Linked DNA regions of Homo sapiens. The protein of the gene in region 4 purifies or fractionates together with the protein of the main gene of each other region. This does not show direct contact. Each region holds a gene or a part of one and is shown on either strand. Other genes may lie near its edges.

What was found.
Region 1: the proteins of NUDT3 (region 4) and FAM167A purify together in Homo sapiens (co-immunoprecipitation; one large-scale study listed by IntAct). This does not show direct contact.
Region 2: the proteins of NUDT3 (region 4) and CTSH purify together in Homo sapiens (affinity purification with mass spectrometry; one large-scale study listed by BioGRID and IntAct). This does not show direct contact.
Region 3: the proteins of NUDT3 (region 4) and IMPA2 purify together in Homo sapiens (affinity purification with mass spectrometry; one large-scale study listed by BioGRID and IntAct). This does not show direct contact.
Region 5: the proteins of NUDT3 (region 4) and AZGP1 purify together in Homo sapiens (affinity purification with mass spectrometry; one large-scale study listed by BioGRID and IntAct). This does not show direct contact.
Region 6: the proteins of NUDT3 (region 4) and A2ML1 purify together in Homo sapiens (affinity purification with mass spectrometry; one large-scale study listed by BioGRID and IntAct). This does not show direct contact.
Region 7: the proteins of NUDT3 (region 4) and PITRM1 fractionate together in Homo sapiens (co-fractionation; one large-scale study listed by BioGRID). This does not show direct contact.

The regions. Positions count from the first base shown.
Region 1 is NC_000008.11:11,460,254-11,463,753, forward strand, and holds part of FAM167A (protein FAM167A), read right to left. Parts: intron 1-3,500.
Region 2 is NC_000015.10:78,931,547-78,935,046, reverse strand, and holds part of CTSH (pro-cathepsin H isoform a preproprotein), read left to right. Parts: coding exon 1-69; intron 70-2,588; coding exon 2,589-2,675; intron 2,676-3,005; exon of another isoform or gene 3,006-3,450; coding exon of another isoform or gene 3,451-3,500. UniProt on the Homo sapiens protein: Important for the overall degradation of proteins in lysosomes.
Region 3 is NC_000018.10:12,005,507-12,009,006, forward strand, and holds part of IMPA2 (inositol monophosphatase 2), read left to right. Parts: intron 1-2,831; exon of another isoform or gene 2,832-2,903; coding exon of another isoform or gene 2,904-3,085; intron 3,086-3,500. UniProt on the Homo sapiens protein: Phosphatase that can use myo-inositol monophosphates, myo-inositol 1,4-diphosphate, scyllo-inositol-1,4-diphosphate, glucose-1-phosphate, beta-glycerophosphate and 2'-AMP as substrates in vitro.
Region 4 is NC_000006.12:34,389,870-34,393,875, reverse strand, and holds the start of NUDT3 (diphosphoinositol polyphosphate phosphohydrolase 1), read left to right. Parts: upstream 1-1,206; 5' UTR 1,207-1,513; coding exon 1,514-1,612; intron 1,613-4,006. UniProt on the Homo sapiens protein: Cleaves a beta-phosphate from the diphosphate groups in PP-InsP5 (diphosphoinositol pentakisphosphate) and [PP]2-InsP4 (bisdiphosphoinositol tetrakisphosphate), suggesting that it may play a role in signal transduction.
Region 5 is NC_000007.14:99,969,631-99,973,031, forward strand, and holds part of AZGP1 (zinc-alpha-2-glycoprotein precursor), read right to left. Parts: intron 2,377-3,401; coding exon 2,116-2,376; intron 1-2,115. UniProt on the Homo sapiens protein: Stimulates lipid degradation in adipocytes and causes the extensive fat losses associated with some advanced cancers. May bind polyunsaturated fatty acids.
Region 6 is NC_000012.12:8,850,121-8,853,620, forward strand, and holds part of A2ML1 (alpha-2-macroglobulin-like protein 1 isoform 1 precursor), read left to right. Parts: intron 1-39; coding exon 40-154; intron 155-1,663; coding exon 1,664-1,892; intron 1,893-2,089; coding exon 2,090-2,216; intron 2,217-3,500. UniProt on the Homo sapiens protein: Is able to inhibit all four classes of proteinases by a unique 'trapping' mechanism. This protein has a peptide stretch, called the 'bait region' which contains specific cleavage sites for different proteinases.
Region 7 is NC_000010.11:3,166,283-3,169,782, reverse strand, and holds part of PITRM1 (presequence protease, mitochondrial isoform 2 precursor), read left to right. Parts: intron 1-2,740; coding exon 2,741-2,847; intron 2,848-3,402; coding exon 3,403-3,500. UniProt on the Homo sapiens protein: Metalloendopeptidase of the mitochondrial matrix that functions in peptide cleavage and degradation rather than in protein processing. Has an ATP-independent activity. Specifically cleaves peptides in the range of 5 to 65 residues.

The DNA.
Region 1 (3,500 bases), on a different chromosome or scaffold from region 4:
GCATTGCCGATGGGAGCGGGAGAAACATTTTGGACAGAGCCAGCCTGGTGTGGAAGAGAAAAGAGTTCCCGACCTGGGAGTCAGCTACTGGGGTCCCATCCCACCCTAAGCCATTGGTTTGGGTGTGATGACCTCCGTGCCCTCTTCCACCCTGACACATGCAGAGTCAGCCCACAGCAGCAGGTAGTGGGACCACCATGTCATGGAGCCACCCCCACGGGGCCAGGGAGTAGAGGCGCCGACTCGCCCACGTTTCCCTGGGGACTGTCTCCCAGCAGAGCCCGGTTTGCAGTGTCCTATGCTAATGGTTGCACTTCAGCTCAGGATAGAAGCTTCCGTTTCCACACCTGGTGCAACAAGAGCAACCACATGCATTTTTTAATCACACTGCATTTGCAAATTTTTTTCCCCACACACACAATGACCTGGGCTAGGGAGGCCTTCCTAAGAATTATACCACAGAGAACTGCACACCAGAGCCATCGAAAGAACTGCCCCAGGTCCCACAGCTCCATGAGTGGCGCTGGCTGCGCTTGCACCCAAGTCTTCTGACTCCGAGTTGAACCCTGCATCTATTGTCTAGGAAACAGGGAAACCTTGCTTGTCTCGCTGGGACATTATGAGAAAAGAATCTATAAAAATACTTAAGACCTTTGCAAATTCAAAGTGCTGGGTCCATGCTGAATAATTGATGGGCTCAGGCTGCTTCAAGCTGACGCACAGTCCTCCTGCAGGAAGGCTGGGAGCGCGGAAACCTTCCTTTTCATTTAGCCCGGTGAAAGAGGCTGCTGAGAAAATTGCCAAGAAATACTGCTTCCCTGTTGGTCAGAAAGAGGCCCTGGCTCCTGGGAGCCACAGATCTAATTTATGGGCTCCCTGCAAGGCGGGGAGAAAGCCCAGGGCCACTGCAGGGAGAGGGGCTCTTGGGACGCCCAGTCGCTGGTGTGTCCCTTCCAAGGCTGCGGGGCTCTGGGAAAGGGCGGCCCTGGCAGGCAGGAAGAGGTGCCTGAGAATCTGACAGTTTGGAGGAGATGGGGAGGGGGAAAGTAGCCATGGGAAAAAAAGAGAAGGATGTGGTTTTCCTCCCGGGAAACGCTCGACAAGGCAGGGATGCCCAGACGGGCTAAGGCAGCCTGCTGCCGCCCCGCCAACCGCCACATGAGACCCAGGGCTTTTCTGGCCAAAGGCCATGGTGGCAGTGGGGATTAGAGGGCAGAAAGTAGACACAGAGTGGCCTTTAAAGCAATCTGCAGAGATGAAAGCAGAATGCAGCGCAGGCCGGTACCCTGGCTATACAAACAGGAAACACTTCCCAGCTGGCTGAAACTCAGACACCAGGGCACAGCTAAGGACACGGGGGATGTGTGCCCTCCCCTGTGGCTTCAGCCCACCAGAGTGGCTCCTAACCAGCTGGCATTGGCCTCAGCCTCCAAACAAGGCAGATCTAGGACTATTTGAATCCACAGGATAATTGGCTCCAAGTTGAAAATAGGCAGAATCAACAAACGCCAGCTCAAGGGGGGATTTGTCCAGATGATCTGATTTCTATTTTACTCTGCAGCACAAGTTCCAAAGCCCAGAGTTTCTAAAAGGCTTCGTAAGGCCTTTCACGGTGTTCCCTGTGCTTATGCCAACTGGGCACCTCCACGTTCGGGCTGGGGGTCCTGACCTCTCAGGGGCTAGAAGGGTCCTTAGGGTTTCCTGGTGTTTGGACGCAGTGGGGTCCCAGTGTGGCCTCAGCCTGGCTTGGACTGCCCAGTGCAGCCTGTAAGTGGCTGCAGGTGCAGCGCTGTGCCTGCACTGGGGTTTGGCAGGGACATATGGCCTGAGTGCCCGCAGGCAGGGCAGAAAATGGGATGTGTGACTTTGCTTCCCTGCCGTGTCAGCTTGCGCTGGAGGTACTTGGCTGCTGAAGCCTCCCGGGTTCACACCTCGCAGAGGAAAGGAATCAGGAGCAGGAGAAAGGGATGGAGCAAGTTAGAACAGGGCAGAGCCGGGTGTCGGGGGACGTGGGTTGGTTGACAGCCAGCCTGCCACTTACTAGTTCTATGACCTTGATCAACAGATTCAACCCTCCTAGGCCTAGGTTCCACATCCATGAAACAGGATTGTAATGGATCGTACCTCACAGTCTTGGAAGGACCAAATGAGATCAAGTTTACGTGAATTTTTAGTTACACCTCTAATACGACTGTCACCTCCTGCTCTTGACTGTGCTTGGCTGTCACTCTCCTTGGTCCATCGAATTGGGAAATGGCTCCTGCACTGCGAAAGTTAACTGAAGCGTGCAGAACAGCATTTTACTGTGAGCTCAGGACTCTACTGCATCAGCAACCTCGCCAGACTGCACGCTCCCTGAGGGCACGGCCTTCACCTTCTGCTTCCTTGGTAGGGTGGTGCATTTGGATCCTAAACTCCTTTGCAGAGATGGTGGGCTGTTCTGTGTGGTTTCATTATGCCAGCTACAACCTAGATGTATTCAAATCAGCAACGCCCACCCCTACCCCACTCGCAGCCACTGCCTCGAAGCAGAAAGCATCTGCTCCAGAGGCAGCAGGGACAGGCACTTCAGCGTCTTTATCTCTGGTCAGCATTGGGCATTTGATGATTAGCAAAGTAAATATTAGAAATGCGTTCTCATTGGTAAAGACAGAGGTATTCAAGATGTGTGGGTTGGCTAAATGAATTCAGAGACACTCTTGACTCAGGAAAGAGCAGGTAAAAGAATCCATGAGAGCTCCAGGGAGGTGTGGTCAGGGCAGCAGAGAGCAGATTGCTGGGCTTCACCGAGCCCACAGGACAGGCTGTATGGACTCCGCTGGACTTGTTTCAGGTAAATATTTGTCCAAAAATGTGTACGTCTGGCAGAATTTGCTCTGAGGCTGCTTTCATTCAAACTTGATAATGAGGCTGGCTTCACCTTCCTCCAAGTTTTCAGTGGCTGCTATCAAACAAATAAACAAAATAGCAGCAGCCACACAACCAAATTTGGGAAGTGCCTTTGTGACTGGAGGGACTTAGGTCAGTTCACGCCTGGCATGGGACTTCCAGGGCGAAGTGCGTGGAGCTGATCACAAGACTAGGGAGGTAGTGTCACTTTCAACTTGATGGTGGACAGTGGGGGCCAGGTCCCTAAGGCAAAGACCCTCATCCAGAACCTTCCTGGGTGGCCACCACCCTAAGCATGAGCCTGCTGACCTAGGGGCTGCTGTGCCCAGCCAGCTCGCAGAGGCTCCGCTGGCTTCCTGGAATGAGGAAACACTGCCCAGCCTTCGAGAAGGCCTGGAACTGTAGCCAGTGCACAAGTCACTGCCTAGGCTCTTTCCATACCTGCCACTGGACCTGGAAAATGGGGTCTGACCTGGGCCTGTCCCTCTAGGGATGCCCAAGGGACAAGCCCTGCGAGGGAGCCCTTGGGCATCTACTGCCAGCTTCCACCTTTGGATCAGGATGCCCTGGAGGGAACTTCCGGCCACACTGAAGAAATGGGGGCTTGGTCC
Region 2 (3,500 bases), on a different chromosome or scaffold from region 4:
ACTGGTCCCTACCCACCTTCCGTGGACTGGCGGAAAAAAGGAAATTTTGTCTCACCTGTGAAAAATCAGGTATGCCTGGCAATCTCCATCCTCTCCCTGCAAAACGGCCACACTCCCAGACAATACACCAGGAAGAACAACTCAAAAGGTCCACAAAACCACCACAAGCACATCCCTGCCTCTGTTTCCTCTCGGCATCTCTCCAGCCCTCTTCCTTTGAGGGGCCAGGGAGGTCAGCACTTCTCTAGGCTGCTCTGGAGGATGCAAAAGTTCCTCTTTATTGGGCTAAAGTTTACTCCCTTCCTTCCCCACGCCCCAGATTTTCCCATTGGTCCCAGGTCTCTCCTACAGAGCCATCCAAAACGTTATGTTCCCTGTGCCCATCTGGACACCAGAACCCCATGCATCTCCTCTTCCCGCCTCCATCTTCTCCGAGCCACCAGGGTCCAGCCCCTGCCCTGGCTGGCCGCCTCCCTCTGGTTAGTCCATGTGTCATGCATCAGCAAGCTTCTCATGGCAGGGGCTGGCCTCCGTGGCCCTTGCTGTGGGGCACAGAGGGCTTGGCAAGGTGAGAGGCCCTGCCTTCCTCCATGGGGGAGCAGTCTGGGGGCATCTCAGCACAGGCCCTGTCCCAGAGAGTCTGGACCCTGCCCCCGCTGTTCTCCCGGCCTGCTGCGGCCCCTCCCCTAGCAGGGAACCTGCCGTGGCCTTCTTCAGAAGGATGCCGACCTCTGGACTCTAGGAAATATGAGGTGAAGGTTTCCTTCCTGGAAACTCCTGGCTTTCCATCGAAATTCTCCATGAGAAATGTTTTTTCACTTTCCAAAAAGCCATCCATGCAGCACAGCTTTAAAGCCTCCCGGGCTTGCAGTGTTCCTGGAGCCTGCCAAGTGCTGGATGTTTAACTAGCATCAGGAGCCAAAGCAAACCTCCCCTTGCAGCAGGAGGTGGAGTAGAAGCCTGCCTTTGCCCCGTGACATTTTTAGACCCTCTGAGAACCACATGACAATTCAGAGCAACACGTAACCTAAACCTGCCCACCACTTGGACAGGTGGGAAAGAGAGGCCCACCAAGAATTTTCCAAGTCCTCCTGTTAACTGATCCTGGGCCATCAGGCAGGACGCAGCCGGCTGGGCTAAGGGAGCGGAATGAGGTGCTTCCTGACGCAGATGTGTGCCGTCTCTTACTGTGGCCGCTGTGTGGGGATAGAGACGGACAGCAGCCACAGCGTCCATCAGCTCAGCACCCTCCTTGAGAGTTTCTCACTTTACAGAGGGAGAGCCTGAGAGGGAGGGTGGTTTGCCTGAGGTCCAAGGTAAGTAAGTGACAAAGGGGACTCAAAACCAGGCCCCTGCCCCAAGTCGAGCACCCAAGGGTCAGCCGAGCTCCGCCTCCTTCAGCAGTGAGCTTAGTCTCCCCCGAAGTGGCCACGTCTGCCTCGTTGACTGTCTCATGGACCCTCTCACCAGGCCGTCCCTCCCTCCCCCAGCTGAGAGAGATATGTGAAGGGAAGAGATTGGGTGAGGCCAGTGTCAACCTAGGGTGATGACCTGGGAGGCAGGTAGGGGACTTAAGAGACATTTCAGAAGTAGAAGCTGGAAGACTGAACCAGCAAGGTGAGGAAACAGAGATGAACCTGAGAGAAATCCTTACAGCAGCCACCAGCATTGTGCCCACGGGGGTGACTGCCTGACCAGCAGAATCTGACTTAACCCTGCTAGCGCCCTGCAAGCAGGAACCCTCGCCATTCCCACTTTACAAGCAATGAAGCCAAGGCTTCGAGAGGGGAAGTGACTTGCCCAGGTCACCCACCTGGTGTGTGGCAGAGCTGGGATGTGAACCAGGCAGGCAGGCTGCAGCCCCCCACACCTAATCCTCATGTTATTCTGGAGGTGTTGTGAATAAGGGGGCTAGGCAGCGGCAATGAACTGTTAGAAGGTGGGGAAATGGGTGGATGGGGCGGGTCCCCCAGAGTCTGGGGTGTCAGGGGTGTCTGGGTGGGGTTGTCTGGCAGTTAGTTGGATGTCTGAGCCTAAGTGGAGGTCAGCACTGGGCTAGGGTTTGGGGAGCTGTTAGTTTAACAGGACTGGGCAGAAGAGACTGGAGGTGGAAAGGTGAGAGAAGGTTCTAAAAACAGAACTTTGGGGCATCCTTCTGCAGGGAACCAGTAGGGAAAAGAGGAGCCAGTGAAGATCGAGAAGGAAGAGAGCCAGAAGACTGCAGAATGGGGTGGGGGACTCCAGGCCCTGGCAGAATGGTGGGGATTGGCCACCAAGAGGTGGTGATTGGGAGTCCACAGGCACTGGTCAGAGGCCACCTGCTGCTCCTGCTCCTTTGCAAGCCTCTCAGGACTTGCGAGGCTCAGAATGAATGGATCTGGAACAGGGCTTGCGAGCCTCAGAATGAATGGATCTGGAACAGGGCCTGCGAGGCTCAGAATGAATGGATCTGGAACAGGGCTTGGTAAACTGCCAAGGCACCTGGGGACTCGGGAGCTCTGGCAGGGTCAGCAGAGGAAGGCAGAAGGCAGGGCTGTCTCACGGCGTCCCCATCACTGATGTCCTCTGCTCTCCCCTGGCCTTTCCAGGGTGCCTGCGGCAGTTGCTGGACTTTCTCCACCACTGGGGCCCTGGAGTCTGCGATCGCCATCGCAACCGGAAAGATGCTGTCCTTGGTAAGAAATCAGCCACAGGCGACCCCCTGCGGAGGACACCCCATCCTGATGTGGGCCAGGCCTGGGCCTTTGGTTTCCCTGGAGCATTGGCTAAGGGTGCTGTTTCAGGTGGACCCAGATGCCCCAGCCTTGTGGACATCTGGCATGAGAATCTCAATTGATGCTTTTCCCGGGAAGGATCTGAGTTTATTAAGGAACCGGCCCAAGGGCTCATTCCTAGATGGATCTGGGTGGTCCTTAGCTTGACAGCCTGGAGCCTTCCCGGCGGAGGGGTTCAGAAAGGCGGAGCCTGCCTGGTGGGTAGCCAACTAGGAGCTACACCCTTCCCAGCAGCCTCAGTTGTCTTCATGAGGGAAGAGCCGGGACCTATGCATCCATCCCCTCGCCCACAAGAGACGGATGATGCCCCTGAAGGAACTATCCTAGCCCCTGCCTCTGTGGAGAAAGGAGGGACAGTGCACAGCCGGCCTGGTGATGCCATGAGGACCCTGGGTTGTGGACAGGTGGGGGTAGGGTCTCTGGCTGGGCCTGTTTCCCCCATCCTATACACCGCTGTGGGACCCCACACTCTGCATCGTATGGGCACACCTACGGGGCAGGGGTTTGGACCCAACAGCCCTTGCCCCCTCTCACCTTCCCTGGCTGCCCCTGCTTACTGAGCCCCTCCCGACATGTGCCAGCTGCTGGGCTGGCACTGCAGGACATACAGCAACTGTCCCTGCCCTTGGGGAGTTTATAATTTGGTCACCTTGACACAGCACTGACGGGGCCTCAGATGTGGCTCAGCCAGGGAGGCTTAGCGCCTCACGCCAAAGCCTTGACGGC
Region 3 (3,500 bases), on a different chromosome or scaffold from region 4:
TAAAAGTACTTGCTGGGTTACACTAAATGAAACCTAAAAAACAAATAGATAAATAATAAAGGTTACACACAGCAGAAGCTTTGTTAACAAATTAACTTATATTAATAGTTGCTGCTGGGAAAACAAGCTGCTTGGTGACTTCCCTAAAGGGTGTCCCACGCATCTGGCGAATGAACAGACAGAGCTCCTGCTCCCGAGTGTCCTGGGAGGCACGTGGGCATGCCGCGTGGGTGGTCTGGGTGCTGCAGCGTGAGTTGTCCTGGGTGTGGAGTGTCAGTGCCTGCAGACCCACACTGCCTCCTCCTTCAGGGCTCACTGGCAGTTTTCTTTCCACCGCTTCAGTTTCCTACTTGAAGTCAGGTTTAAAAAGGAGAAGAATTGCACATTCCTCCTCAGTTTCTTAGAAACTTACCTTTGTGCCTGAGTCATTTCTAGTCCCTCTGGACCTGAGTCATATCTGTTCGCTGCTTTGTCAACCTTGTGCCCAGTTTAAGCTTTCGTAGTTGCTCCTTGTATGTGTGTTTTCAGGGTGTGGAGCGTTTTCTTTAAAAACGTCATTGCAAGCCATTACAGAAGAGGAAAGTCACATAGCTACAGAAGACATGGAAAAACAGATTTAGTGCCTGAAGTTTCTAGGAAAACTGGCAGTGCTGACAGCACTTATGATCACGCCCTAAGTGGAATCATCACCTGTGTGTCTCCTGCAGGCTGCTGTTGTCAGGAGGCAGCCTCTCCACCCCCTGCCCCGGCTGCCATTGTGGCTTCTACCCACCATTTTTCCTCCTAGATCTGTTTGGGGAGCACCAGTTCCTGAGCAGGGGCTCTGGCTGGTGGGCCTGTGCATCACCTGACCTAGAAGCATGTGGACAACTGAGAGTGGAGAGGCAGTTCCTGCAAGGAGCAAGGCGTGCAGTGTAGATGAAGAACCAGAAGCCTGGGTTCACTGCATCTCATCTGCCTTGCCTGGCTAGGCTGAAAGCTCCAGGGGCAGACTGAGCCTGCCCAGGCTCTCCAGGAACAGCTGATGATTCCTTGGGTGTCTTGCTTAGTGCTCCTGGCTTGACTTGACCTGGTCTTCTTGGCTCAGAAGCCCCTGCTTATTCGTGGGTTTCTCCAGGGGGCCGGGGAGGAGGTCGCACAGCCTGAGATGATGTATGCGTGCACTTGTCGTATCCCAGGGTTGTATTTCTAGATAATTTATCAGCAAAATGGAGGGGCTGGATGACTCTGCATCCCAGGCATGAACTTCATAACCCAGCAGTGGAAGGATGGTCCCAGAGTGGATGGGGACCAGGGTGGTTACAGTGTGTATGGCAGCTCCCGTGCATAGAAAAGTGACATCGGGCCAGGCGTGGTGGCTCACGCCTGCAATCCCAGCACTTTGGGAGCCTGAGGTGGGCGTATCACGAGATCAGGAGTTCAAGACCAGCCCGGCCAGCATGGTGAAACCCCATCTCTACTAAAGATAAAAAAAATTAGCCAGGCGTGTGGCGCACGCCTGTAATCCCAGCTACTCATGAGGCTGAGGCAGGAGAATTGCTTGAACCCGGGAGGCAGAGGTTGCAGTGAGCTGAGATCGCGCCATTGCACTCCAGCCTGGGCGACAGGGCGAGACTCTGTCTCCAAAAAAAAGTGACATCGAATACCATGAGATGCCTGCTGTTGCCTCTCAGCATCTCGGTGGGAGGACAGCACTGCCAGCGGCTCTGTCTGTTGCTGCAGGGGTGGCCCACATCTGCTGTGTCCACAGTGGTAGCCGCTCACCCACGTGACTGCCAAGCACTTGAAAGGTGGCTCATGAGACTGAAGAACTGAAGTCTTTATTTAATTCAAATGTAAGCAGCCATATGCGGTGACTGGCTACTGTAAGGCGCTGAGCGGTCACAGAGGTTTTCATTTCAGTCTTTCCATTCACACTCAAGTCTCCAGCCTTATCCAAAAGTTCATTGATGCCAAATCTTAGACCACATGGTTCGTGCGGGGAAAGTGGCTTCCAGGAGGCTGATGACCACAGTGGATAATACACCAAACACCAGAACATGGGACGCTTCTTTCTTTCTTTCCTTCTTTTCTTTCTTTTCTTTTCTTTCTTTCTTTCTCTTTCTTTCTTTCTTTTTCTTTCTTCTTTCTTTCTTTCTTTCTTTCTTTCTTTCTTTCTTTCTTTCTTTCTTTCCTTTCTTTCCTTTCTTTCCTTTCTTCCCTCCTTCCCTTCTTTATTTCTCTCTCTCTCCTTCCTTCCTTCCCTTCCTTCTTTCTTTTCTTTTTCTTTTCTTTCTTTTCTTTTTTTTGAGATGGAATCTCACTCTTGTCACCCCGGCTGGAGTGCAATGGCATGATCTCGGCTCACTGCATCCCTCCCGTCCTGGGTTCAAGCGATTCTCCTGCCTCAGACTCCCAAGCAGCTGGGATTATAGGCGTGCGCCACCACCCCCAGCTAATTTTTGTATTTTTATTTCTTTTTCTTTTTTTTTCTTTTTGAGATGGAGTCTCACTCTCCCAGGCTGGAGTGCAGCGGTGTGATCTCAGCTCACTGCAACGTTAGGATCACTGCAACCTCCGGCTCACTGCAACCTCCACCTCCTGGGTTCAAGCAATTCTCCTCTCTCAGTCTCTCAAGTAGCTGGGAGTACAGGCGCCCACCACCACGCCCAGCTAATTTTTGTATTTTTAGTAGAGACAGGGTTTCACCATGCTGGCCAGGCTGATCTCGAACTCCTGACCTCAGGTGATCTGCCCGCCTTGGCCTCCCACAGTGCTGGGATTACAGGCGTGAGCCACCGCGCCTTGCTTGTTTTTCACTTATTTTCTTTTTCTTACTCTCTGCAGGTCTCCTTTTTCTCTAGTACACATGTGAACCCGGCACAGGAACTGGATAGAAAACCTCTCGGCAAGGCCACATAGTCATGCACAGAACAGATGTTTGCTTAGCGCCTGCCCAAGGCCTCACCCTTAGTGAACTTGGGACAGTCCAAGAGTGTCAAAAGCACTGCCCTGAATGCTTTAGATCTAGTCTTTTCTTTGATCCTGAGAATGCCTTTGGAAGGTGTAAACAGCGGCCAGCTCCACAGGGACCAGCCTGCAGAAGGTGGGCTGCGAATACACCTGACCACAGCATCTTCCCTGTGTGTGTGGGCCTGCGTGTGGGTGGGGTGCAGGAGGAAGGGTGACAGTGCATGGGGCGAGAGTGCTTTCCCTTGTTTTTGGCCTGAGCAGGGGGTGCTGGGAGTTGCCATTCGTGGAGGTAGAGGCAAGTAGAGAAAACCAGGAGTTCCCTTCTGTGCAGGTGAATCTTGAGAGAACATTGTCTCGGTCAGGTTCCTAGCAGGACAGACGCACACTCAAGTGAGGATTGTAGGGGGCCTTGTTTGCAGAGGGACTCATTACAAAGGAGGGGCCAGCCCAGGGCCTGCTGCAGAGTGCAGGAGCAGGCCGCCCATGTCCCTCTAGCAGGAATGTGTCAAGCAGGCCACATGGAGGAGTGGAGCCTGCACAGGGCACAT
Region 4 (4,006 bases):
TGTGCCAGGGCCAAGTAGGTCTCTATTTTGCGGAAGTTAAAATATGATGTAATCGGGTGGTATGAGCATTAAAAAAAATGTAATTGAGGTTACAACCAAGGTGTATTTGCTTTCAAATCCAGATCTTTTTGACTATGCTAAATACAAGCAAATTCAAAAAGGGGAATTAGCCGGCTGCTGTGGCTCACACCAGTAATCCCAGTGCTTTGGGAGGCCGAGGGTGGATAGCTTCGAGGCCAGGAATTCCGGACCAGCCCGGGCAACAAAATGTTAAATAAAAAAATTTTAAAAAATTAAATAAAAAAATTTAAAAAACAAAAAAGGGTATTAAACAACTCACAGACAGATACTGCACAGGATTTTTGGTACGTTTAGGGCATCTGCATGGTACTTGGTTTGTTCTGGGTTGCTGAGAACATTCACAGGTCATACACCAGTTTTCCTTTCTGGAGAGCTTCTGTCTGTATATCTTTTCCTGGAGAATCTGTTTGACATCCACAACACACACTCCTCATTTATTGCCAGAAACGATGATGTTTTATGATTTACATTATGTGTGTACACACGCACGCACGCGCGCGTGTTCCTTTCTGGCCCTCTTGTTTACCATAAGAGGAAGCAATTACCTTTAGCATCAATAAAAGATTGCAGAATAAATATTTGTTCTTTGTAATGGGCGACATGCACCAGCCCCTAAGACATCCTGAGGTTCAGGCTATCAACGCAAAGTGCACACGCCTCCCATGCGCCGTTTCCTTGCAGTTCCAAATCCCAGATGTCTCAGGCTGCAGCTTCCGTTGCCTTTAACTACATCCTCCTTTTTCCAACAAACCTTCCCCCTCAACCCCTTCGAGACCGACCGGCAGGGCCCAGGGGCGGGTGGCGTGACCTTGGTTCATCCTCGGCCGCGGAGACGCGGCGTGACCTTGGCCAAGTCCCCGCTTCCCCATCCGCAGACTTGCGCGGCTGGACCGCTCGGTCTCCGCTCCGGCCGCTAGGCGTCCTGCGCCGCTGTTCTTATCTCCCCCGGCTTCCTCCGCGCACCCCACCAGTTCTACGCCTACGCTGCCGGCGTAGCGGTCGCCTGGAGTCGCGCGTCCCTCTCCTTTCAGATGCTGGTTTCCACCGCGCGAACTGGGAGGGCGCGATTCGCGAACGCGGCCTGCGCTGCGAGCGCGCGGCCGTCCCGCAGGCCGGTGCAGCCTTACGCCGCTGACGCATCGCGCCCAAGATGGCGGCGCGGTCGTCGTCGGGGGTGGCGGCGGCAGAGGGGGCGGCGGCCCTGGCGGCAGCGGAGACGGCAGCCGTGACGGTGGCAGCGGCGGCGCGGGACCTGGGCCTGGGGGAATGAGGCGGCCGCGGCGGGCCAGCGGCGGAGCCGTGTAGCGGAGAAGCTCCCCCTCCCTGCTTCCCTTGGCCGAGCCGGGGGCGCGCGCGCACGCGGCCGTCCAGAGCGGGCTCCCCACCCCTCGACTCCTGCGACCCGCACCGCACCCCCACCCGGGCCCGGAGGATGATGAAGCTCAAGTCGAACCAGACCCGCACCTACGACGGCGACGGCTACAAGAAGCGGGCCGCATGCCTGTGTTTCCGCAGCGAGAGCGAGGAGGAGGTGAGGCGGCAGGCTGGGCGGGCCGGGGTCGCCGGGTCTCCGGCCCCTTCGGGTGGAGGCGCGAGGGGCGCGGCCGCCGGAGGAGGGTGTGCCAGGGCCGCCCCGCTCGGGCGGAATGAAGTTCCGATGGAATTTCCTGAGGCGAAAAAAGGGGGAAGGAGAAAGGACGTTGGGGCTGAGGGGAAGCGGGTTTGAGTGCGGCTGCACAGGGCGCGCCGGGCGGAGGGGGTAGCCGGCTTGTGGCCGGAGCGCTTCGGTTCCGCCGCCTGTTACCGGGGAGAGCGGCCGCGGGAGAAGGCAGTGGGCTGGGAAGAGTGCGGCTTTCGGTCCAGGCCAACGGCTTTGATCCTGGAAGGGCCGCTCCGCAGTTGTCAGCCAGGCACATGTGTGCGGAGGCCGGCGTGCACGAGGCGCGGGCCGGCCTTTGTGGCAGAGAAATAGTGCACTTCATTGGCAGGTTTGGGGTTTGCCGAGGGATTATATGTCTGTGAGCCCAAAGCTGAGGGGTGGGGGTGGGGTGTCTTCGGAAGATTTAGGGCGTTGTGCATAAGCCATAGCCAGCTGTTTATTTTACAGTGCGCTGGGTAGCCTTTATGGTGTAGTCTGAGAAGAAAAGACATTTGATATAATAATCTTTGTGTGCTGAAAATGTTTCATGTTAATTGGGAAGACCAAAAGCGGTATTTAACATTTTTGCCCTGACGTTCCTCCACTGCCTTGTGGGAAGACTCTTAGGATTAAATTAGCTAGGAAAATAATGTTTTAGAATCAGTTTCTTTTTATAATAGGTAGGGTACTTTAAAAAAAAATCTCGGCTTCCCAAAGCCGTTTCTGTGGTGATGAAGGGAATTCAGAGAAGCACATGTTTTGTAAATCCACAAAAGAGTAGCTGCTTTGGAAATTCATAAGATGCCTGTGGGAATGCATTTCTCGTGTGCATGGTGGTAAAATGGCAGTTAAACTGGAAACAATGAAGGACAGTGAAATCCAATATGTTATATTGGATTCAGCAGTGGGCTATGGTGGCAGGGCCGCAGTACAGTGCAGTGTCGAAATGGGGAAAGGAACTTGACCCGTTAGTTATGAAAAGAAGCTGTGGCGAAAGAGACAGATGGATTGCCAGGAGTTGCTGTCCAGAGGTATTTAGGAGGAAGTGGGAATTTGAATTACTGCCTGAAGAAAATTAGTTAGTGAATTGTGTTGTTAAGGGATCCCATGTGTGCTCCCTTTCAGCAAAACAGAACGAAAGGAGATTTGGAAACGTATGCTTTGTATCCTACCATATATTGTAAAAGTCCCCAAAACAGATGCATTGTAATAGCTAACCAGGGCCATGCTGTAAATTATATACTGTTTTGGAATGCATATTTGAGTAAAGTAAAATTATTGGTGGTGCTTATTGCTCCAGAGCCTTTATTCTCCTCATTATCATATCATGTTATGGGAAATCAGATGGGATCACAGGCTCTTAACTGAAGGGAAAACTAATTAGCATAATAGCATGTCTTACTACACTAGTATGCATAAATCTGTGAGCACCCCAATTATAAGTATAATTTAGTTGTACGAATGATGCAAGACTGTTTGTTTTAAAAAAATCACACCAGGCCGGGCGTGGTGGCTCACGCCTGTAATCCTAGCACTTCAGGAGACCAAGGTGGTGAGGCCAAGAGTTCGAGACCAACCTGGCCAACACAGATCCCCATCTCTAAATATAAAAAAAAATAATAATAATAAATCATACTAGAAATAGAAAATGTATTTTTGATAAATTGAAAACTATAGATCATAAGCAAACTAGCAACGGCTTAATTTTCCATTTTCTGTTAAATGTTTTGTTATGCACTGACATTAGCAACATTAATGTTGAAAGCTTACTTGTCTGTTTAGGCTACCTCACGGCATCTCACAAGTCAGACCAGGCATAGGACTTGCCTTCTAGGAGCTTACTTTTTTTCTTTTTTTTTTTTGAGACCGACTCTTGCTATGTCGCCCAGGCTGGAGTGCAGTGGCCCCATCTTGGCTCACTGCAACCTCTGCCTCCCAGGTTCAGGCGATTCTAGGAGCTTGCATTTTTATTTTTAAAATTTTATTTATTTACTTATTTTTATTTATTTATTTATTTTGAGACGGAGTCTCGCTCTTTCGCCCAGGCTGGAGTGCAGTGGCGTGATCTCGGCTCATTGCAACCTCCACCTCCCGGGTTCAAGCTGTTCTCCCTGCCTCAGCCTCCCGAGTAGCTGGGATTACAGGCACCTGCCATAATGCTTGGCTAGTTTTCTGTATTTTTTTTTTTTTTTGAGACAGAGTCTTGCTCTGTCGCCCATGGTGGAGTGCAGTGGCACCATCTCGGCTCACTGCAAGCTCCGCCTCCCGGATTCACGCCATTCTCCT
Region 5 (3,401 bases), on a different chromosome or scaffold from region 4:
ATCTCTTCTAAGGACAATTATTTGTTTGAATTTATGCTGAGTCCTGAGGAAGCTGTCACAACTACACCAAAGTGTACTTCCAAATTGGATAGAAATTATTTGTGATTTCATATGAGTAAAGGAAGGCTCTCTTTTTCTCTCAGTTCTAGGAAGAGTTCATATCATCACCTAAGTAACCCTAATCTGATCACTTCTTTCTACCTTTCTGGTGTTTGATATCTTTATCCCAAATCTCTAAAGCCCCAACCTTCTTGCCCATTAGCCACAACTCTCAGAAATGGACCTCATAGGGCAGGGGACACAGCCTCTTTGTTCTGATGATAAAAGCAGGTGTTTACCCAGCACTGGTTGGTGCTGTTGGCATAGACTCTGAAAGCTCTCAAGCTGTCTGGGCTCACGTCCCAGGTCTCTCCCCAGCCCCCCACCCCCACCTGGTGTGTTGCCTGAACTGGAGCCACTCAACTCCCTGTGCCTCTATTTCCTCACCTCTGAAATGGCAATGCCAAGAGCACTGTTTTAGGGGGCTATTCTGAGCATTATATATGCTCATAGATGGGCCTGGCACAAAGTAAGTGCTCAGTAAATGTCAGCTACTATTATTTCCTTTTTTTGTTTTTTGTTTTTTGTTTTTAGACAACGTTTCACTCTTGTCACCCAGGCTGTAGTGCAATGGTAGGATTTTGGCTCACTGTAACCTCTGCCTCCTGGGTTCAAGCAATTCTCCTGCCTCAGCCTCCTGAGTAGCTGGGACCACAGACGTGTGCCACCATGCCAGGCTATTTTTGTATTATTAGTAGAGACAGGGTTTCACCATGTTGGCCGGGCTGGTCTCGAACTCCTGACCTTAGGTGATCTGCCTGCCTCAGCCTCCCAAAGTGCTGGGATTACAAGAGTGAGCCACCAAGCCCTGCCTTCTATTATTTTCTAATACCCTGTGTTCATCTCCTCATCCTCCTTCCTCTTAATTATCCACTTTGCCATTTCTATTCCTGTCCATCAATGCTTCCCCCAGTGTCTTTTCTGATCACCTGTGCCCCCTCCTCTCCTATTGCTGACACACAGCCTGGGCCATTTTCCTTACCAAGACCTCCCCCACCCCACATCCTTGAAACATCTGCCTATCTCTTTCTTGCCTCCTTTTGAAAATCTTCAGATCCCATGTAGCACCTTGGGCATTTTTGTACTTAGTAGCCCATCTTTTGACACCCACTCTATGATAATTTAACACCAGCAGTTCACCAGACCTGAGGTTGGCTGCCTTGGGGCTGGCAGTGTGGTTTAGGAGAAAGAGCACTGGGCCGGGGGCACAGGGACCATCTCTGCACGGGCTCTGCCACCAGCTCCTCTGACCATAGCGCAGGTGGCCCTTCCTGGGTCTGCATCGTATGGTAAGGAGGAACTTTAGGGCTCCAAGGAACTCTAACAGCCCACAGTTTTGAATCCAGCACTTCCTGAGCCCCCAGCATGGGCTACGGTGTGTGCTGGGTGCTTTTCTCTGTTGATTCCACAAATTTCAATTGAGCCAATATTGGCTGTACCCTGTGCTAGGTGATGGAGCTGCAAGGGAGATCAGGACAGACTGTGACATCCTTCATAGAACAGACATAGTTAAATATTACAGACTTGTTTGGAGGTAGGTCTCAGTGCTCCAATGTTTGCAGATTTCAACCAGATATTTTGGGAACGTTTCACTGTCAACAGCTAGGACTGGCAGAACCACCAGGTGAGCCCAGGTCTGAGTGACTTTGAGAGTGGCTCACTCTCCAGGCAACCTCCCTGGACAGGGGTGAGTCTGATGCCTTCTCACGGGGGTATCAGCCTCCGATGGGTGGGGTGTGGAGGTGAGAGGTCATAGGTGCCTGGATAGGAAGTGACTCTGCCATCACTTCCTGTGTGACCTGAGGCCTGGGATGAGGATGGGGCAATTGATGGGGAAGCGGGGAGCACCTGTGCTGTGGGGTGGGTGGGATGTGGACATGTCTGTGTTTCTGCTGTGTCTCCTGTTCTTCCCCTGGGATTGGGACTATTTCCATCCTGCTGATCCCTTGCCACTCACACTGGGGGGGCTGCCTCTTGGGTTAGACCTTCCACCCCTGTGGTCTGTTATTCACTGACCGTTACTGTCGTTGTAATACTCCACGATGTCTTTCAGGGTCTCCATAAAGATGTCCTCCCTGGCCTTCTGAAGTTGGCTGTCCTGCTTCCAATCCTCCATTCCTTCCACCTGTCTCCAGAGTCCCATGGGCTGAGACTTCCTGTCTTTACTGTTGTATCTAAAGAACTGGAGGTCATTGAGTGAGCCAAGGGCCTGAAACGCGGGGACGTCTTCAACATGCTTGGACAGCCCAGTGTAGATATAGGTCAGAGAGTAACGACCTGCAAAAGAAAAGATTCTGATGGTTGAGGTCCATGCAAGGGTCCCACTGTGGGGCTGCATAGGGCTAGGAGGGGAGACCTGCCACTGGCCTTTTCTTCCCCAGCTCTTTCTCCTGCCATCAACTTCACACCACTGGAGGCTCACTCAAGTGAATATGCTCTACTTTCATGCCTGAGATGATATTTCAGAGACCATCCTGTGTCTTCACTACATTATTTCCTCTGCTTGACACATAGGAAGATAACATTACTCAGCCACCTCGAAGATATATTGGGACCATGTGACTGAGTTTTGTCAAAAGAGAATGTGAGCAGAAGTGATGTCTTTCTTCTTGTCCAAGACCCTACCAGCTGGCTTGTCCCTTTTGTTTCTCATCCCTAGAGGTGACGACTTTGAAGGCCACAGGATAATATGAAAGAGTCTCAATATGCAATTGGCCTGGATCCCTGAGTCACCCCATGGAGGAATGGAACCTTGCCCAGTGTGCATGGAATCTGACATGCGTTAGAAATTAACATTTCTAGGCTGGGCTCCGTGGCTCATGCCTGTAATCCCAGGACTTTGGGAGGCCAAGGCAGGCAGATTACTTGAGATCAGGAGTTGAAGACCAGCCTGGCCAACATGGTGAAACCCCATCTCTATTAAAAAATACAAAAATTAGCTGGGCATGGTGGTGCGGGCCTGTAATCCCAGTCATGCTGGAGGCTGAGGCAGGAAAATCACTTGAACCAGAGAGGCAGAGGTTGCAACAAGCCAAGATCATGCCACTGCACTCCAGCTTGGATGACAGAGTGAGACTCCGTCTCAAAAAAAACAAATTAACATTTCGTCCGGGCTCAGTGGCTCACGCCTGTAATCCCAGCACTTTAGGGGGCCGAGGCGGGTGGATCACGAGGTCAGGAGATCGAGACCATCCTGGCTAACATGGTGAAACCCCGTCTCTACTAAGAATTCAAAAAATTAGCCAAGCATGGTGGCGGGTGCCTGTAGTCCCAGCTACTCAGGAGGCTGAGGCAGGAGAATG
Region 6 (3,500 bases), on a different chromosome or scaffold from region 4:
TCCTGTTTCCTAAAGTTTTCGTATTCTCAATTTCATCAGCAGGCGGTGGTCATCCAGAGGCTTTTGAGTCATCAACTCCTTTACATCAAGCAGAGGATTCTCAGGTCCGCCAGTACTTCCCAGAGACCTGGCTCTGGGATCTGTTTCCTATTGGGTAAGTGATGACTCAAAAGTACAGTAAAGGGCCAGGTGCATGGCTCACGCCTGTAATCCCAACACTTTGGGAGGCTTAGGAGGGAGGATCACTTGAGACCAGGAGTTCAAGACCAGCCTGGGCAACATAATGAGCTTCTGTCTCTACAAAAGAAATTAAAAAAATAGCCAGATGGTAGTTGTGTCCTACTTGGAAGGCTGAGGTGGAAGGATCACTTGAGTCTGGGAGGTGGAGGCTGCAGTGAAGCAAGATCACATTGCTTCACTCCTGCTTGGGTGACAGAGCAAAACCCTTCTCAAAATCAACAACGACAACGACAACAACAAACCCAGAAAAAAAACAGTAAGATTCTGCAATGTAGAGCCTGTAGAAAACTCAGAATCAGACGCATTCCTAATGGATCTAAATCTTAAGCAAAGAAAGCTTGATGGGGTGTGGGAATTTATTTATTTTCCGGAATTCTTTTTTTCTTTTTATTTTTAAGACAGAGTCTTGCTCTGTCACCCAGGCTGGAGTGCAGTGGCATGATTTTGGCTCACTGTAGGCCTCAACCTCCTAGGTTCAAGCAATTCTTGTGCCTCAGCCTCCCAAGTAGCTGGGACTATAGGCACATGCCACCACACCTGGCTAAGTTTTGTATTTTTAGTAGAGGCAGGGTTTTGCTATGTTGGCCAGGCTAGTCTTGAACTCCTGGCCTCAAGTGATCCACCCGCCTTGGCCTCCCAAAGTGTTGGGATTACAGGTGTGAGCCACTGCGCCCGGCCTACCTGAATTCTTCATGCATTCATATACAACCACTCAAAACAAATCCACACAATTCCACACTCACACATTGCAGGCCCTGTGTTCTCACTACAGAACCACACACATTTAAAGGTATATATTGACATCAATTTTTGCTCACTGCTTGCATATCCATTTTGACAAGCCCTGAGACCACACATCCTCAGACTCAGAGGGCACCAGCCTCTCTGTCAGATGTGCTTGCACAGAGATGCCCACCCCGACTCCCCACCATAGTCCCCCTCCTCCGTATGAGTGCAGCCTCACTCACACTGAGACTCACCTGTTCAGTTGCCTCTTTACTTCTCCCCATACAATAACAATAACAATTTTACTTCTGCAGATGAATTTGTAGCTTTTTTTTTTTGGACAGGGTCTTGCCCTGTCACCCAGGCTGGAGTGCAGTGGTGCAATCATAGCTCACTGCAGCCTCAAACTCCTGGGCTCAAGCAATCCTCCTGCCTCAGCCTCCTAAGTAGCTGGGACTATAGGCATGCACCACCACACCTGGCTAATTTTTAAATTTTTGGTAGAAATAGGGTCTTGCTATGTTTCCCAGGCTGGCCTCAAACTGCTGGGCTGAAGCTATCTGCTCACCTCAGCCTCTCAAAGAGCTGGGATTACAAGTGTAAGCCAGCACACCCCACCGAATTTGTGGCTTAATTCACAAATGTTCTCCTTGCCCCACGCTACCTCTGCCTCATGTTGGTCCTTGTGTTTTCACAGTAACTCGGGGAAGGAGGCGGTCCACGTCACAGTTCCTGACGCCATCACCGAGTGGAAGGCGATGAGTTTCTGCACTTCCCAGTCAAGAGGCTTCGGGCTTTCACCCACTGTTGGACTAACTGCTTTCAAGCCGTTCTTTGTTGACCTGACTCTCCCTTACTCAGTAGTCCGTGGGGAATCCTTTCGTCTTACTGCCACCATCTTCAATTACCTAAAGGATTGCATCAGGGTGAGAGCTGGGGATACAGGAATCAGGTGTCAGCCCTGGAATCACACCTCCCCCATAAGTTTGTCTCTAAATTGGAAGCATCCCAATTTTCCCTGGGAAAGAGAGGAGATGTCGGCGTCTCAGCCCCCAGGTTTCCCCAGGCCTCTATGCACTACCTCCTTTGTTTGTACCCTTTGTCTCTTAAACATCCTCCGTAGGTTCAGACTGACCTGGCTAAATCGCATGAGTACCAGCTAGAATCATGGGCAGATTCTCAGACCTCCAGTTGTCTCTGTGCTGATGACGCAAAAACCCACCACTGGAACATCACAGCTGTCAAATTGGGTAAGAGAGGGAAGTGGTAGACGGGCGAGGAAAGCCAGCAGCAGAAGACCAGTGACTGAGCACTCAGTCTTTTCCTCTGCCACATCTGCTTTGCTTCCTCCTCCATTTTCCACTATTTTTCTCCCTCCTAAGGCTGTTATAAGTCAATACACAAACACTCTTTGATAGGTGACCAAACAAATTTGTTCAAACCGGAATATTTTGAGTGTGAAAGGGAGAGCTTTTAATATTTATAGCTGGACAAGGAATACATGGTCATGTAACTAATCAAGGACTTACTATAAGAGTCCCTGGGCCAGGCACTATTCTAACTGCTTTACATATATTAACTCATTAAATTGATTGACTAATTAATTTTTATTTTATTTATTTATTTTTGAGAGGAAGTCTCGCTCTGTTGCGCAGGCTGGAGTGCAGTGGTGCAATCTGTGCTTACTGCAACCTCCACCTCCTGGGTTCAAGTGATTCTCCTGCCAAGCCTCCCAAGTAGCTAGGATTACAGTCGCGTGCCACCCTACCCGGCTAATTTTTGTACTTTTAGTAGAGGTGGGGTTTTGCCATGTTGGCCAGGCTGGTCTCAAACTCCTGACCTCAGGTGACCTGCCTGCCTCGGCCTCCCAAAGTGCTGGGATTACAGGCGTGAGCCGCTGCGCCTGGCCTTTTATTTTTTTTTAGAGAGACAAGATCTTACTCTGTCACCTAAGCTGGAGTACAGTGGTGTGGTCATTGCTCACTGCAGCCTCAACCTCCCAGGCTCAAGCGATCCTCTCACCTAGGCCTCCGGAGTAGCTGGGACTATAGGCTCATGCCACCACCATGCCTGGCTAATTCAGTTGGCAGAGAAGCGGTCTTGCTCTGTTGCCCAGGCTGTTCTCAAACTCCTGGGTTCAAGTGATTCTCCCGCCTCACCCTTCCAAAGTACTGGGATTACAAGAATGAGTCACTGCACCTTTAACTTGTTTAATCCTCACCCCCAACCCTATGGGATGTCAGTCACTCATAGATTAAATCCTTGCAACTCAAAGTTTGATTTTCATATGTATGAGTTATCTCATGTTGCTTGACAAATTATTGTAAAACTTAAGTGTCATAAAAGGACAAACATTATCAAACAGATTCTATGGGTCATTAATCTGGGTGCAGCTTAGCTGGGTACCTCTGGCTCAAGGTATCTCATGAGGTTGCAATCAAGCTGTCAGTCAGGACTCTGGTTTCATCTGAAGACTCGACTAGGAGAGGATTGATTTTTCAAGCTCATCCCAAAGTCTCTGATCCTTACAGGCT
Region 7 (3,500 bases), on a different chromosome or scaffold from region 4:
CTCACTGCCCTGATCTGTTTAGTCAGGTTTTGCCATCAAATAGCTTGCTCTAAACGTCCGCAGAACCTTTCAGTTTTCTGAGCCATTCGGGTTTCAGAATGATAAAGAAGCAATTGTGGACCTGTACTTACTTGGGTCTGTATTAAAATAGATTCATTTGGTTTTTGTTTTGTTATTTTGCCTAAACCTTTTGCATTGTTTCTATTTAGCATGGTAACTGAAAATGACACGCTTCATGTATTTGGCCAGCTGTTGGCTTTGTGCTATGCTTGATGTTATAGCAAACGTGAAAGACAAACAGCTTACTGTCTAGAAAGACTGCTGCGGCTGTGACCGGAGGCACATGGTGGACGCCACGCGGAGGGCCAAGGACAAGGGCAGGAGGAGGAGTGGGAGCTGCTGCTGCTGGGGGCAGAGGGAAGAGCTCCTGGAGAGGGTGGTGTGAGAACGTGGCTGCCTTCGGTCAGGGCTCCAGCAAGGGAGCCAGGGCAGTGACTAGGGTGCGCCAGACAAGGTCCAGGCATGGGACTCATGAAAAGACTTGGAGCGTTTGTGAAATCCTGCAAAGGCCAGGCAAAGACACTTGGGTTTATGGTACAGGTTACTGTTAATAAGGGCCTCACCCACAGCGGTAGATTCTCCTCCTTTATTTCTCAAATTTTATAGAAACGTATTTACTTTTGAGACTGGGACTCACCCTGTCGCCCAGGCTGGAGTGTGGTGGTATGATCTTGGCTCACTGCAGCCTCGAACTCCTGGGCTCAAGCGATCCTCTTGCCAAGTAGCTGGGACAAGGTGCCACCACGCCTGGCTAATTGTGTGTGTGTGTGTGTGTGTGTGTGTGTGTGTGTGTGTGTGTGTGTGTGTAGATGGAAACTTTGTTGCCTAGACTGGTCTCAAACTCCTGGGTTCAAGCAATCCTTTTGCTTGTGTATTAGTCTAGTCTCACACTGCTATGAAGAAATACCCAAGACTGGGTAATTTATAAAGTATGAGCTAAAAAGTGAAGAGGTTTAATTGACTCACAGTTCTGCATGGCTGGGGAGGCCTCAGGAAACACAATCGTGGTGGAAGGCATCTCTTCACAGGGCGGCAGGGGAGAGAATGAGGATCAAGTGAAGGGGGAAGCCCCTTATAAAACCGTCAGCTCTCATGAGAACGTGCTCACTGTCACGAGAATAACATGGAGGAAACCGCCCTCTTGATTCAATTACCTCCCACCAGGTCCCTCCCACAACATGTGGGGATTATGGAAACTACAATTCAAGATGAGATTTGGGTGGGGACACAGCCAAACCATATCACCTTGGCCTTCCAAAGTGCTGGGATTATAGGTGTGAGCCACTGTGTCCAGCCATAGAAACTTACGATAAGTCATGATTCTTGTTTGAGAAATAGCTACCATGAAAGCTATTATTATTAAAGCTATATATTATTAGAAAGCAAACATCTCACTGTATCTGCTGACTTCAAAAGCATTGATCATCTGTTACAAAGTACAGTGAGCTTGGAAACAGAAGTAATTTCGCGGCGGTAGATGATGCAGGTCATAGTGGTCTGCTTTATGCATGACTGTTGCGTGGCAGGCTCCCTAGATTGGGCTGAGGAGACCCGAGGTCTGACCTTGGCCAGCGACTTACTGTGTGCGCTTGGCCAGGTGACTCATGGCACCTGGCAGGAGGGGGTGGTGAGTGGTGTGGTGATCACAGGGACGTGGTGTGTGATTGAGGGAGAGGGCCGGCTGGCATGACTGGAAGAGAAGACAGTTTCTTTCATACCGAGGAGTATGGTCACTTACCAGGAGGCTTACCTAAAGTAGGAGATGACCTTCCACGCCGCCCCAGGAGTGGGGAGTCTTTCGTCTGTCTTGTGGGCATTTCTATCCTCCCGGCCCCTCCAGCTGTTCTGGAAGCCACAGCTTTGTGCTTCTAGCTACCACCGAGAACCCATCCTAAACTAAGAGAAGCAAAGGCTGATCCTAGAGCCTCTCCCTGCTGTCGCAGGCTAGCCCACTCTAGCATTTCCCCTCCTTGCAGGCCCGTTCTGCGCACTACAGGAGATGATATGCACAGAAACAGACACACAGCCAACGTTGGAAGGGGTGCTGTGTTACTGAGGCGCAGCACACAAAAGCAGGAGACACTCAGCAGACATTGGAAGGGGCGCTGTGTTACTGAGGCACAGCACACAAAAGCAGGAGACACTCAGCAGACATTGGAAAGGGCGCTCTGTTACTTAGGTGCAGCATGGTACCATGGGAAGGGCAGACACCAGGGTGAATCCTGGCTCTGTGATTTAGGCAGCTTATTTCATCACCCTGAGCCTCGGTTTTTTCGTCTGTAAATGAGTATGAGAATACCTCCCTCACAGGATTATATGTGACATGATTAGAAAATGCCTAGCCAAAAAAAGAATAAAAAATTTAAAAAATAAAAAAATCTAAAATACCTAGCCAGTAGTAAGCGCGTGCGCTCTCGCGCTCGCTCGCTCGCTCGCTCTCTCTCTCTTTCTATACACACACACACATATTCTCATCTGCCTTTTTTAGGTCTGTCTTTCCTTGTTTGTAGGATAAGGGACCTGGACAAGATGGTTCTCTTCTCTCCAGCTCTGAAATACTGCCTTCCCGGCATCATCTAATTTCAGGCAGAAAAGCCAGTTTTCTCAGTGTGTCGAACATAACCATTTCAAAGGCCATTTTGTCTAAGTTTAACTGGTCGTGTTTTTCTTGTTAACTCAGGTGACATCTGTTCCCGAGCTGTTCCTGACTGCAGTGAAGCTCACCCATGATGACACAGGAGCCAGGTATTTACACCTGGCCAGAGAAGACACGAATAATCTGTTCAGGTGTGTGGTGCATTGTAAGAACATGGTCTTGAATGTTTTTATTTAAATCAGGAATGTCCATTCTTTTGGCTTCCCTGTGCCACAATGGAAGAAGAACAACTGTCTTAGGCCACGCATAAAATACACTAACACTAAGGACAGCTGATGAGCTAAAAATAATAAATAAAGGACCCCTCAATGTTTTAAGAAAGTGTATGAATTTGTGTTGGGCTGCATTTCAAGCCATCCTGAGCATGCGGGCTGCAGGCTGCGGGTTGGACAAGCTTGATTTAAAACATGGCTATACATTACGTGGTTTAAAATATCATCTCACTAGTATTTTTATTGACAGAGCATCTTGAAAAATAAGGAAAAGTTTACACTGACTTATAATCTCATCAAAATACAATTTTACAGTCTGAGTCAATGATTTACATTATAGTTGGAAAACCCTGTGCTGGAGGATTGTGGTGTCAGAATGATGATTTCTAGTAGCCTGAGGTGATGATGCATCTGGGAACTGTGTCCGCAGCACTAAGCTGAACCTTTTGCGTTCTGGTCATTCTCCTTCCCTAGCGTGCAGTTCCGTACTACTCCCATGGACAGTACTGGTGTTCCTCACATTCTTGAGCATACCGTCCTTTGTGGGTCTCAGAAATATCCGTGCAGAGACC